Linked DNA regions of Homo sapiens: region 2 is linked to region 1. Evidence: fine-mapped expression QTL. Tissue or cell type: testis. Region 1 holds a variant in brackets; the other region holds the start of a gene. All regions are shown on one strand. Distances are from middle to middle.

Evidence for each region. PIP is the estimated chance that this variant, and not a neighbour inherited with it, causes the effect.
Region 2: it holds the start of LINC02044, and the variant in region 1 is fine-mapped to the expression of LINC02044 in testis (GTEx, PIP above 0.99). The same link has a PIP of 0.9 or more in left ventricle.

The regions. Positions count from the first base shown.
Region 1 is chr3:113,109,004-113,111,690 of GRCh38, reverse strand. The region is part of intron 1 of NEPRO-AS1 (NEPRO antisense RNA 1); the gene reads right to left. Among named protein-coding and RNA genes, the nearest start is that of LOLI1, 5.9 kb to the right of the region's middle. The variant A/C (reference allele first, on the strand shown) is at 1,347.
Region 2 is chr3:113,166,376-113,169,062 of GRCh38, reverse strand. It overlaps LINC02044 (long intergenic non-protein coding RNA 2044), which reads left to right and starts at 1,332. Exons shown (of 4, transcript NR_110823.1): 1 at 1,332-1,462. The region is part of intron 2 of NEPRO-AS1 (NEPRO antisense RNA 1); the gene reads right to left.

The DNA of each region.
Region 1 (2,687 bases):
GTCTTGTTGACTTGCATGTAGGCTTGCCTCAAGTATACCACACCATTCATCCCTCTGTTCATTCAACCAACATTGTTTGTTGAATTACCCCATGCCTGGAGCACTTACTAAGCTCCAGGCATGGTGTAATTTTGCCCCTACCCTTTGCAGCAGAGGCCTGCACAGCACAGTGTCAAGGATTACCTTAAGGAGCAGAGTTTTCTTTAGGGTTACAGCGGAGTGTGAGATCGTGGGAGATAAGGGTGAGTCACTGATCAATGGCTCAGTGAGAGTTGTGGGGAAGGAATTGAGGCTGACAAAAAGTACACAGTGAGGTTATATGTTCTTCAGGAAGGTTTGCTGTGCTGTTTAGGTTCCTTTTTAAAAGTTCATGGCTTTCAGGAGTTGTTACCTCCCCAGAGGAGGTGTTGGCCGGCAAACTAAACCCTGTACATTTTTAGACTCCTACACCTCTCCTCCACATTTCCTGCTCTGTCCACATCCAGCTGCAAAACTTCTTTCCATTTTTGACAATTTCCATATCCATATTCATTTCTTTCACGTGGTTGTCTTTTGCATGTCTTTTTCCAATCATTCCTGCCCCCACCCTGCTGCCCTGGTGCCCCTCACCCCCGGTGAATCTCTTCTGCTTTTGTGGTCTCTTCTTTCTTCTTCCATTTTTCTTCCTTTTTACTACTCTTTGCCCTCACACCCAAGGTATGCAGCAGGCTTGGATGAGAGAGTCACACGGAAGGGACTGTTTATACGTAAGAATGTTTGTCTTCTCTCCAGACGCACTGACACTTAGGGAGGGAAAGTGCGAACTCTACTCGCAGCCTCTCCTTTGCTCATGCCATTATTTATAATTATGATAATAGAAAATAATATTGATTTAACTTTTACTGTGAACCAGACACTGTGCTAAATTCTTTTCAGACTTTATCTCATCGAATCCTCACAACAATCCAACAAGGCAAGTACTATTATGACCTCCAGTTCACAGATGGGAAAACTGAGTCTTGGCGTGATTAAAGCACTTGCTTAATATCCTAAGCTAGTAAATATCGGAAAGTCACCCACAGCCAGCTCTGTCTGACTGCAGAGCCTAAGGTGTGACTTTACAATGCCTTACTTACTTTCTGGGCTTCTATCCTTCCTCCAACCCACCTCCTACTTTAAGTTAACTCCCTCTCTCTTCCTAAAGTGAACTCGGCAGTCCAGTTGGCTTCCTTCCAGCTTCAGTGAGCTGGGGAATCCCTGGCATGGGCTCAGCTATAAGTTCTATAGAACATCATAACTGCTGGTACTAGGGCAATAAAATCTTAACAGTCTCGGCCGGGCACAGTGGCTCACGCCTGTAATCCCAG[A/C]ACTTTGGGAGGCCAAGGTGGGCAGATCACCAGGTCAGGAGTTTGAGACCAGCCTGGCCAACATGGTGAAACCCCATCTCTCCTAAAAATACAAAAATTAGCTGGGCATGGTGGCAGGTGCTTGTAATTCCAGCTACTTGGGAGGCTGAGGCAGGAGAATCGTTTGAACACGGGAGATGAAGGTTGCAGTGAGCCGAGATCACGCCATTGCACTCCAGCCCAGGTGACAGGATGAGGCTGCGTCTAAAAAAAAAAAAAAAAAAAAAAAAATCTTAACTGTCTCCACAGAAGACGACTGTAAATTCTTCTGAAGTCCCACTTTGGGTGTAAAAGTTCATGCCTCTCTTCCCCCTCCTCCTCTTCTCTTTTCCACCCCACCTCCATTAACTGCCCCAGATTTCATGAAAGGTCCCATGCATTAAAACAAGGCACAGAAATCCCAGCAGCCTCCAGCTGCAGCGGGGTTGTTTTGTCTATGAAATGTTCTAAAAAAAAACCAAAAAACAAAAAAAAACAAGGTTTCACATCAACTTTGCTCAGGATCAGGGACACATAGCTTATGCTTTTTGGAAAACTGTAGAGAAAGAAGAAGAGGCAGAGGAAAATTGCCAGTGAGGACAACAGAAGAGAACCAATGAATAACTCGGAACGCATAAGGATACCCAGAAGAAAACTTTGTGAAAATGACACCTGAGGGGCTCTGGGATTTTTCCTCTCTCAATTATTTTCATCTTGTTACCTGGGTCCTGACAAGCCAGCTGTGGTCTCTCTGAAAAATTCATTTGGCTGTCTTGAACTTAGCTGAAAAACAAGTATCAGCAGAGGTCTGAGAGGGAATAAGAGCTCGTTTCTTCCTTCTGGGATCAAGTGAACAGGTCTCAGGACCCTGGGGGGGCGGTGCATGGAGAGTAACCAAAGGGCCCCTTTTAGAGTCTCCTTTCTGCCCCAGAAATAATTGTATCACATTTAGACAAAATGTGAAAGTCAGACAGGAACCTGGGAAAGTGACCACTGGGACAGATCTGGAGGGGGCCATGTGACCCCAGTCCTGGACATCACATCACAACAATGTTGCTTTGCCTTCTTTCCCCTAGGAAGGGGAAAGTTCAGAGGGAGACCCTGGGAAGTTGAGGCTTAGATAGGTAATGGAGGTGCATGTCAAGGGTAGGAGAGATCCGGTGGGCCTGGAACTATGACAAATGGAACAAAAGGGTTTTATGTGTCCTGTGAGATAAAACCCAAAATGTATTTGTCTAAATCCCACTTCCCTCTTAGTTTCTAAACCCCTGTTCATTTCACAGGAAATTAAATGTGTTTATCAGATTCCTTTACCCTTACCTC
Region 2 (2,687 bases), 57 kb before region 1:
AAATTATGCTCATAAAGTTTCTCAGATGTCAAACAGGTTTTCATAATAATTATTTTTGATGATTTAAGGGTAAGTAAATAAAAAGCATATGGATTAAATGTCCCTTAAAATATGCATGTTTTAATATTATGGGGTATGGGGGTAGTGCTTGACGAAAGCACTTTGCATTTCACACAGCCCTGATGTTTGAAAAATAGGGCATTTGATGAGTTCTAAACAAGACCAGGTTCTCCTATCTTTGGCAGAACTCTGTGAGCCAGTTTTCTGTCTTTCCAAGAGAAACGGTCTGCCCAATCCTGGGGAACAACAGCCCCCACCCCTGCAAGTAAAGCTTGGCAAACGTGAGCCGTCGTTCTCAGTTGAGAAAACAGGAGTGAAGTAATGGCCACAGCCCGCAGTTACCCCTCTGGAGTGGCCTGATTTATAACTGCCTTGGGAGCCTCACGGTATTACATCGCTTGATTTTGTACACACATAATGTCTTAGCCTTCCCACCCCACAATGTGTTAGGTGGTATTAAAGGTTTTCCACTGGGGCATATAAAATCTTGGCTTTTATCCAAGCCAAAATCCAGCCACCCCTTGAGCATTATAATTGAAGTCTAAATAGAACTTGGCATCATTCTAGGGTCTCTCAATCAATCAACTAACATTAAATGCCTGCTAGAGCAAGCCCTTACTATGATGGGGAGTGAGAGGAAGGGAGAAAAAAGGACATTAAAAAAAGTTCAGAAACACAGAAGACAAAGTCCCAGTTTCAAGCAACTAATGATCTGCTTGAGGGGCTAAGATAAGACACAGGGGAAATGATGAAATGCCACCAGGCAGGTATGGATAAGGGAGGCTGGACTGGGAAGGCTCTCTGAAATAGGAGTAACTTTTGATGGGCCTTAGGGATTGAGCTGGTTCATTCACTTGTGAAAATTCACTTGTGAAATATTTACTGAACACCTACTATATGCAACATACTGGGCTAGTACTGAGGATACAAAGGAGAGCCAGACAGGCCTGGTCCTTGCCTTTGGGCAGCTTGCCTCTGAGTTGGGAAGATAGGCATCAAACAGCTAATTATATCATTCAACCTTCCTTATAATTGTGAGTGCTCCAAAGAAGAAGATCAGGGTACTTGACCAAAGTTAAATGTCTTAAATTTTCCTAGACCCTTAAAGTGTGCTTCACCAATCAGCTTGATATAAAGGCAGAATCTCAGGCACCTCTCCAGTCCTAGTCAATCAGAATCTGCATTTTTAGCTCAATGCCAGGTGATTCTTTTGTACATTAAATTTTTAGAAACAGTACCAAGATAGAATTTTGCAAGACAGCAGAGGACTCCCGGATCACACATGTGTTAGAATATCTGGATTAAATGAATCAGACACCCCTTTTCCTGGATGATATTTATACACCTGAATTGTGTGTTAAGGAGCCTGTGTTGCTTGCGTAGATGCTGAAGAGTGGCCGAGGTAAGTTAACATGCCTCTCAACTTTGCATTATCCATTTGTATCTTATTTTCAGTTATATGTCTACTGGGTCAGGATCCTTTCACGCTCCAAAAGTAGGAGATCTATTCTGTTTGGCATCAATATTTCCCTGTGCCTCCCTCCCTACACTCTCAGTGCTGGCTAATGCTTTCCAGATGAGGTGTGAGCTGCTGCTAATTGTACCCGGATCAGTCTTGATTTGTGTTTCAGTCAGCAAGGCACCTCACTAATGGGTCTGAAACTTGGCAGCAGGCCTGGGACCAGTGTCAAAGGAAACAGATCCGAAAGGCACACCGAGAATGGCAAGGAGACAGGGAGTCGACAGAGAAAGATTTGCAGGATGAAAGGAGGGGGAGGAATCAAAGGGACAGGAGAAAACAGGAGAGCCTTTGGGGAAAAAGCAACAGAGAAACAGACCTGGGAAAGCCGGGGCTGTGGAGGAAAGGGGAGAGGGGCAAACAAAGGAAAAGGCCGGGAGGCAAAGGGAAAAGGAGCAATGCATCTGTATCTCTGAGAGGAGGAAAAAGAGAAGGCAAGATGATCAGGCTGTGTTTTGTGATGTGATCCTGAACGCTGATAATGCCTGTGGTTGCTCACAGAGAAATCCTATGTGGGGAGTGTCAGTCCCATTCCCATCTGCAGGCAGAAATCTGATGCCTCTCGCCTTTTCTCTCTGGCCTCCAGCTTTCCGATGGCTTGGCAGGGAACGCTGAACTCTGACAGCAGCCAGTGAGTGAAGGCTCAAGTTCTAAGCCTGACAGAGTTAAGGGACTCAGACACACCTTGGCTTTATGAGCTGAGGCCCGAGGCAGGGCCTCTGCTGGCTTGAGCTCCTGGAGCCAGCCTTCCTGGAATCGAGCTGGAAAGAGGCCTTCTTAGGGGAAGCTGAGAACTGAGGCCCAAGGCCTTTCTGAATTGGACACATTCACTGTACTTATTTTTTTTAATCTCCTCTATAAGAGGGGGGAAATCCACTTGCCAATATGAATTCCAAATTGTTTAAGTAGGGGAGAACCCATATATGCATGCAAATTTGTGCAGGCAAGCAGAGAGTGAAAGAAACAGGGAAACAGACTGAGGTTACCAGTGGACGGGCTAAACATTGCCTAGGACAATAGCAAAGCAGTGGCACTACCTACCCAGGCTCCCAGCAAGAAACAAATAAGCAAGCTTTGGTTTTGGAGGAAAAGTTGACACCTCAACAAA